Linked DNA regions of Homo sapiens: region 1 is linked to region 2. The links come from fine-mapping of genetic effects on gene expression. A gene starts in region 2. The other region holds a variant in brackets. All regions are shown on one strand. Distances are between the middles of the regions.

The links. PIP is the estimated chance that this variant, and not a neighbour inherited with it, causes the effect.
Region 1: its variant is the best candidate, but not a certain one, in a credible set for the expression of HRH1 in tibial nerve (GTEx, PIP 0.71).

What each region holds. Positions count from the first base shown.
Region 1 is chr3:11,078,277-11,082,665 of GRCh38, reverse strand. The region is part of intron 2 of LOC101927467 (a long non-coding RNA gene); the gene reads right to left. Among named protein-coding and RNA genes, the nearest start is that of SLC6A1-AS1, 61 kb to the right of the region's middle. The variant A/G (reference allele first, on the strand shown) is at 2,004.
Region 2 is chr3:11,151,908-11,156,296 of GRCh38, reverse strand. HRH1 (histamine receptor H1) reads right to left here and starts at 1,804. Exons shown (of 2, transcript NM_001098212.2): 1 at 1,743-1,804. LOC105376951 (a long non-coding RNA gene) reads left to right here and starts at 1,897. Exons shown (of 5, transcript XR_940593.2): 1 at 1,897-2,033. It overlaps LOC124909345 (a long non-coding RNA gene), which reads right to left and starts at 1,551. Exons shown (of 2, transcript XR_007095817.1): 1 at 1,166-1,551.

The DNA of each region.
Region 1 (4,389 bases), 74 kb after region 2:
TGTTCGGTTGCGGTGGCTCACGCCTATAATCCCAGCACTTTGGGAGCCTGAGGCAGGAGGATCATGAGGTCAGGAGCTTGAGGCCAGCCTGGCCAACATGGGGAAACCCTGTCTCTACTAAAAATACAAAAGTTAGCCGGGCGTGGTGGTGTGTGCCTGTAATCCCAGCTACTCAGGAGGCTGAGGCAGGAGAATTGCTTGAACCCAGGAGGCGGAGGTTGCAGTGAGCCGAGATCGCACCACTGCACTGCAGTCTGGGTGACAGAGCAAGACTCTATCTTGGAAAAAAAAAAAAGAAAGAAAAACATGCCTGTTTGCTGCCAGCAGAACCAGTTCTTACCTCTAAACACTCTTTTGTCCAACTGATCATTAATTTATTTGTTAACAAGTTATTTTGGGGAGGGATTTCCATGTCTGTGCTAGGGCTAATTTTCTAGCACAGTGTTGGAGCTCAGTAAATATTGAATGAGTGCATGAAGGATGACAGGAAGGGAGAAAGGGACTGGGGGCTGTGTGCAAGGGAAGCAGCAGCATGGTGTGCCTGCAAGGCGGCTGTCCATCTTGCAGAGACACCAGCCCTGCCCTCCAAAGGTTCCCTCAGCCTCTCCATCTTCATGCTTCTCCCAGGTTGGTGTTGAGCCCTTTGAGAGAGGCTGAATTAAGTGCTAGGCTCCCTTCACTGCCTAAATGCCCTGTGAGAGCTGCGCCAAGCAGCAGATTGCTAGAGTGTGAGGCTGTTTTCATTGTCTGACTCGCTTGGGAGCAGGTGGTTCATTTCTGAAAAGCTGAGGCTTAGTGAGTTTTCATGGATGGAGGGGACAGAGAAGGAAACAAGACAGACTGACAGACACAGAGAGCCACAGCCAGCTGATATGTGCTGAGCACTCAATCCATGCCAGGCATGCTGTTAGGCCCTAGGAATTCAGTGGTGTAACAGACAGACTCAGGCCCTGCCCTCAGGGAGCTTAAAGTCTAGAACAGGGGTTGGCAAAGTCCAGCCTGTGGGCTGATTCTGGCCTGCTTGGAACACAGCTGTGCTCATTTGTTTGAGTGTTGTCTAGGGTTGATTTCACTCATTTGTCTGAGTGTTGTCTAGGGTTGATTTCACTCATTTGTCTGAATGTTGTCTAGGGTTGATTTCACTCATTTGAGTGTTGTCTAGGGTTGATTTCACTCATTTGAGTGTTGTCTAGCGTTGATTTCACTCATTTGTCTGAGTGTTGTCTAGGGTTGATTTCACTCATTTGTCTGAGTGTTGTCTAGGGTTGATTTCACTCATTTGTCTGAGTGTTGTCTAGGGTTGATTTCACTCATTTGAGTGTTGTCTAGGGTTGATTTCACTCATTTGTCTGAGTGTTGTCTAGGGTTGATTTCACTCATTTGTCTGAGTGTTGTCCAGGGTTGATTTAACTCATTTGTTTGAGTGTTGTCTAGGGTTGATTTCACTCTGTGGCAGAGATGAGTAGTTGCAACAGGGACTGTGTCACCTATAAAACCTAAAATACTTACAGTCTGGCCCTTTCTAGAAAAAGTGTGCTGACCTGTGGTGTAGAGGCCAAGCAGATACAAGCAGCCAGAAGCAGAAAGAAGAGTGAAGTCAAAACGCACACAGAAAATGAGAGAGAGAGAAGGAGCCCCCCAAAATATGTGAGGTGGGAAGGCTGCAGTTCCCACAAATATTTCCATTTGTCATCCTTCACCATGACAAAACTCCACCATCAGTGGCTTATTCCTTAGGGATAAGCATTGCTTTCACAAATATTCCCCTGAAAAGAGTTCTTCTTCCTCGATTTATACCCTGAGTATGGAGTAGCTGAAGAGATCATTCTGGAGGCAGACAGGGCTGCTGAAGATTTCCAAAAGCCAGGACGGAGGGAGAGGGAAGGGCTGGGCCTTATGGATGGGAGGTGTCTGGGTAGGGCAGAGCACCACAGCCTGCAAAAACAATTGTGTTGTTTGTCCAAGATGAGCCAGTGGTAGGGTGTGTCTCTGAGCTGCTCTGC[A/G]GTTTCTCAAGGGTGGGATTCTATTTATGACCAAAGAAGTCACTCACCGCCTAAGGGCAGAGTTGTGATTCCTCTTCCATCCCTGACATTGGGCAGCGTCGGCTCTTGGGGGTGCATAGGTATGTGTGTGCATGCACTGGTGTGTGTATCAGGAGGGAGCCACATTTTGCAGTGAAGGGGGTTCAGTTGATATAATTTGGGGGACCCTCTTTAAGGAAAAGATTTCAAAATTATCAATCCTAATTTAGGTATGCATATGCATATTTAGAATTTAAAAAGAAATCATAATGTTACAAAATTTTAAAAAATTGACAAGGGTCAGAAACACTGCAAAATCTAGAAAAATGACATATGTGTTAATTAACTTCCTGATACCCTCTGAAATGCATTTCATGGTAGTTTTGCTATATACTTTTCATATGTTTATGATTTTTAATAATCTTTTCTAATAGAGAAAAGAATGATAAGTCAGCCTTTCCTCTGACACGGTCGACTGAAATTCGTTTTTTCACCACGAGTTAGGATGCACAAGATGTAACTTCATATACATACTTGCTTCTTGCAGCACAGCCTTGGGTTTGGCTCCTACAGACTCAAGAATTCTGATAAATTCAATTTTGTATGTTTTCCATCACAAAAAGAAAAATGTATGGTATATTTATAATGCTATATGTTACCTTATTAGGGATATGCTGCATTATCAAGCATATGCCCAAATGGAAAAAAAAATTTTTTCGATTAGGTGTCAGTGAGAACTGAATCCAGTTATAATACTGTCTGTGATGATCTGAATAATTTTCCATTTCCATTTCTGGCTCTGTCCATTTCCAACACTGTTTCTCTTCTTTGGCCCACACCTTTCTGGTACTGGGCACCAGACCACACACTGAGATATTTTGGTACAGCCATAGGCCTCACTCCTTCATGTCATGATGCAGGGCAAGTTGGCATGGGGGCAATAGGGCTATTCTGGAGGTCATTGCTATGTCAGTGTCTTAGTCTATTTTGTGTTGTTTATCACACAATACCTGAAAGAAAAATCATTTATTTCTTACATTTATGGAGGCTGAGAAGTTCAAGGTTGAGGGCCTGCCTTTGGTGAGGGGCTTCTTGCTGCTGGGGACTCTCTGCAGAGTCCCAAAGTGGCTCAGGGCATTACATGGCAAAAGGGCTGAGTGTGCCAGTTCAAGTTTTTCTTCCTCTTCTTAGAAAACCACCGGCCCCACTCCCAGGATAACCCATTAATCCACTAATCCCTGAATGGATTAATCCATTCATGAGGGCAGAGCCCTCATGACCCAATCACCTCTTACAGGTTCCGCTTTTTAATTACATGACAAAAGGGCTGAGTGTGCCAGTTCAAGTCTTGCTTCCTCTTCTTAGAAAACCACCGGTCCCACCCCCATAATAACCCATCGCAGAGCCCTCATGACCCAATCACCTCTTACAGGTTCTACTTTTTAATATTGCCACATTAGGGATTAAGTTTTACTACAAGTTTTGGAGGGGACAAATATTCAAACCATAGGAGCCAGAATAATAATAACCTATATATGGAAGAGGTGGTGAACCACATCCATATATGCTCTGATCTCAAACTAAATGTATCACCAAGTCAACTCTCCCCAAATGCCACCTGTCATGAGGGGAAGTGTGAGTAGAATGAGCTAGGAGTCTTAACCAGTTGCGGATAGAATGTGTTGCTTGTCCTAAATGTTCATCATTTGATGCATGGACAAACAAAATGTGGCATATCCAAACTATGGATTATTCTTTGGCTACAAAAAAGGAATGAAGCACTGATACCTGCTACTACACATATGAATCTTGAAAACATATGTGAAATGAAAGGAGACAGACACAAAAGGCCACAAACTGTATGATTCCATTCATACGAAATGCCCAGAACCGGCAAATGTATTGAGTCAGAAAGTAAGACTAGTGTTTGCCAGGGAGGAAGGAAATGGGGAGTTACTGCTAATGGTTGATTTTTAGGAATGAATAAAGTGTTCTAGACTTAGATAATGGTGATGGTTGTACAACTTTGTGAATATACTAAAAATCACTGCATTGTACACGTCGAAAGGGTGAATCTTATAGTAAGTGAATTATATTTCAATCAAGCTATTATTTTAAAGATTTTTACTTTTGTGAGTTTTACAAAACCATGTGACCAGGTAAACACATAGCTAGGGCCTTCTCCCATGATAAATTACCCTTTGGGAATGTATCAGTTTGGGGATGTGTATCAGTTATCTATCAGTAGAGCAGATACTGTGTAACAACCAACCACAGAACTTTAGTGGCACAAAACCTCAGTGGCACACTACAATAAATATTTATTTGGCTCACAAATCAGCTAGGCTCTGCTGGGCTGTTCTTCTGG
Region 2 (4,389 bases):
AATCATGGACAGGCAGCACCTGTCCATCTCCTGCCTCCACGGGATTCTCTGTCACATTTGAAAATGAAAACAATGCCAGGCATCCCCTGCCCTTCTCCGTAGATTCTCCCCACACCAGGAGAAATGCCTGAATCACACTCGAGGATTTACATGGGGTTGTCCAGGATTCCTGTGAGCAGTGGACCTGCTGCCTGGCTTTCCTCTATTCATCCTTTGCTGCTGCCAGACACAAGCAAAGAAGGAGCTAAGGTCCCATCTGCCACCTCAGTTTCATTCATAATCTAGAGGGAGTCAGGCAACATGGGTGTTCAAACCCCAATTCTGTCATGGACCAGCTGGGCAATCTCAAGCAAATTACTTAACCTCTCTGAGCCTCAGTAGACTATCTGTTCAATAATAGTACTTACCTTCCAAGAATGCTGTGATGGGATAATGCATAATGATGCTCTCATGTGTACACCCTCCCTCTCTCCCAGTCTCTGCTGGTTTCTGGCTGCCTCCAAGACTCTTCCTATAAGACCCTCAATTCCCCTCTCCTTCATGCTCCAGGGACACACTCCGTCTGTGCTCCTGTCACAGGTTTCTGGCCCCGCAATCATGAAATGAGTTATTCAGGCACCTTCCAGCCTGAAAACCTTGTTCACCAGGACTCCCAGCCTGCCTCGTCTTGTCTGCTCCAGGCTGAGGCGGGAGCCCTCTGCCGGAGGACAGCCACTCTGCCTGGAACATCTCTGCACTATCAGCTGCCAGGCAAGCGGACACCTCAGAGGGATCAGGGAATCAGGAGGGAAGAGGTGGGATCTTCATGGAGGACTGGGGGCTGGGGGTGGGGTAACAGAGCAGGAGACGTGACTTCCTTGAGGAGCTGCTGTACTCCAGCTCCTGCTCCTGGCTTCCTGGGCTCCTTCGAGAAAAACTGAGAGCAACTTCTAGAATCTGATCTCTGAAAGAGCAGCCCCGATGCTTTTCTGTCACCAGAATCCACTCCCTGGCCATAATATCCACTCATTTTCCCAAAGCATCCTCCTCTCTCGGTACAACGAGGAGGAGGTGATCCGCCTCTTGCTCCACACCCCCAGCTGCAGCCGAACTGCAGGGGAAGGGCGGGTGGTGGTCCGGACAGTTCCCACCCCCGACTCCAGGTGACGCTGAGCCTGGGGCTTACCTCAGTGTATTCAAGTGATTTGGATCAGGATGACTCCGAGCAAAACCCTGACTCTCTCCCCTTAACCAGCTGATGCTCCTGGGCACAACTTCCCTCCCCGAGCCTCAGTTTCCTCCTCTGTAAAATGAGTATAACAATATTGCAACAGATAATGGATGCCCAAAGCCTGGCACAGTGAACGCACTCAACCAATGGGCTGGCACTACGGTTAGCAGCGAACTCAGACCCTGGGGAGGCTCAAAGAAAACGAGGCTCCCCCTCTGCTCGCCCGAGCTCAAAGACGGACGCTCAGGGCGCGCACCCTGCCCAAGCCCGGGGAAGCTAAAGGTGTCTGCGCGTCGAGTGCTGAGGCCACAGTGTGGAGAGGGGAGCGGTGCCACCGAGCGAGCCGCCCTCCGCCACCCTCCCCAGGCCACCCGCGTCGCGAGGGTACCCAAGCGCGCTCTTCTCAAGCGGGCGGCTCCGGGGTTCCCGGCCGCCCTGCCGGGATGCCCGGAACCCAGCCTGGCCAGCGCGCAGCCTCGCCCAGCCGCGGCGGCCCCGCTCCCGCCCAAGCCCGCGCCCCGCTGCGACTCACCGGCGCCGGCTCCGGGGAAAGTTTGGTGGCGCGTTGGCCGCGGCGGCCAGGCTGCTGGGTGTCGCGGGGGCGGCGGCGGGGGCGCCGGGGAGCTCTCGGGGAGCGGGGCGCCGGAGGAGGAGCCGCTCCGAGGGGCCCACCCGCGAGCAGCGGGGAAGGCGGGGACCCGGGCCCCGCGGGCCTGCAGCGCCCCCGCACCCGGTTCCACGCGCCCAGGGCCGCCCCCGCGGAGAGAGGGGGCGCGAGGGGCGCGCCTCTCGCTCGGACACCCTCTCCCAGCTCGCGCCCCAGGTTTGGAGCTGCTCCCGCTGGGTACCCGGGCTCGGGCTCTGCGAGGCGGACTGCTCCTTGGGTTTGGAAGGAGGGGTGGCAGAAGGGTCAGAACCTTGGTGAGACAACTCCACCCCCACCCACGCACCTGCGGGCACACAAAACGACAGACAGAGATAAATCAAGACAAAGAGGCACAGATGGAAATAGAGATGAAACGATGTTTGGCAGAGTCAATCACAGATAGATTGAAAAAGACAAATAGTGATACCTGCGCCCCTCATTCCTGCTAGGGGCGCCAAAATCGAAAAAGGCAAAGTCAGACAGAGGTGGAACAAGATTGACAGTAGGAACCCTACCCCTAGAGGTTTCGGGGAACTAAAGAGACCCCAGGGTCTACAACCTCACACCTCTCTTCTGTTTCTCCCTAGCCCGTCCTGATGAATGAGCCCACATTTCAAAATAGGATGTGTTTTAATTAGCAACCTGTGCCACCCCGAGCAGCAAGGGGAGGAGTGGGGTGGGGGTGAGGCCCCTCTGCAGGTCCCCGGGAACCTCTGTCCCTGGCAATGGGAGCTTGAGGATTCTTCCTGGCTGCCTTCATTTCCAGAGCTGGGAGAGAGAGGTCGAGGTTTTTCTGCCTTCTCAGCGCCGGGAAAACTCCATTTGAACCTTTGAACAGTTATGGTTTCAGATTTTACCCCAGCAGTTTCGAAGGGACCACCTAAGCTCACAGGGAGAGGAGGGTGTTTGAGGAGGTGGGACATGGTGGGTTGGGGTGTGGGGGTGGGGGTCAGAGGGGTATTTTAGCCTCCTCCCAGTAGCAGCAGTCCCACCAGCCCTGGTTGTGGACCACACAGAGCTGGGTCTGAGGCTCAGCTTCACAAGCTGTGTATGGTAGGTCCATGGTCCTTTTTCTTGGCCTCAGGGCCCATGTCGGTAACACAAGGGTTCATAAAGACAGGGGCCATTGTGTCAGATGCTTTTCTAAGTGCTACAGATGCTTACTCATTTAATCCTCACAACAATAATAGGTCCTAGTAGGTAGGAACTATTATTATCCCTATTTTACAGGTGAGAAAATGAAGGCACAGAGAGATTGAGTAACTTGCACAAGGTCACATGTAGGAGAACTGAGCATCCACCCTACTCAGCCTGGCCCCAAGGTCCAAGGTGCTGTTATAACTTCATCTCCGTGGGGCTGTTGGAAAGTTTCATGATGCCATTTCTATAAAGGGCTTAGTGCTCCATAAATGGTAGCTCAGAGATCACTGATCCCATCTGCAAGGTGGGGATTAAAGGACTTTGTGATGCCCAGTGATATGAGACTTTGGCCTTGAGATAATGGCAGGCCATGTCACTGTCCTGGGCATTATGGATTCGAGAAGTCAGGGATGTCCCATTTGTTTTTCTGGCCAGCCCTCTGCACATTAGCACAACCCCACAGCCAAGACTCACCCTGGATCCACGAAAGCCCTCTCCCACTCCCTGGTGATTCTCCAGGGCCTCCATATTTTACACTTTACCAGACTAATGCACCCTTTGGAACCGAGTTAGCACTCAGGATAGCAACTGTTATAAATTCTAAAGGAAATACATTTCCTCTCTCTATAGCTGTGGGGCTTAAGGGAGGTAAGGGGGGGATGGAGGTGGGAGGGGGGATGGGGGCAGGGCGGGTGGGGGAAGCCTGGGAAATGGCTGCGTCCACACTTTCATCCCTCCTCTCTCCATTCTGCATTTCAGCAAAGGCTTGGTTATTTGGAATTCCTCCCCAAAGTTTCACTTCCTGGGCTAGTTTTAGGCCTGCTAAACCCATGGTGATCAGCACTTTTAGAAAAATCAGCATCTTAGAAACAACATGTTAGACATGATTTCAAGCCCCTGGTAAGCAGGGTGTGGGTTGTTTTGCTGTGGCATTTGGAACTGACAGATCAGGAGGTACCCCAGGCTGTATGAGGGGTTGGGGAGCAGAAGGGCACAATCAACTTACTAACAACATACAGGCTGCAGCAGAAAAGTAACAGCCCCATGCTTACTGCATACTGTGTGTCAGGCTTGATTTAAGAGCTTTACATAAATAATGCACCGATTCCTCACAATCCCATGAGGTAGGTACTGTTGTCATCCCGTTTTGCAAATGAGAAAACAAAGAGATGAAGGAGTTTGTTCAGAGTATACAGCTAGTAAGTCTTCCCAAGATCAGACAGGTGGGAAGCAGCTGAGCCAGATCTGGAGCCTGGAGCAGTCTGGACCCACAGCCCCACTCCTACTTCTGTGCTTTGTGGAAGAAGCAGAAAAAAGGGACAACCTCAATGCCTGAGTAGAGACTGAAGGCAATGAGAAGAAATAAGTAGATTAAAAATACCTGCTCTGCCAC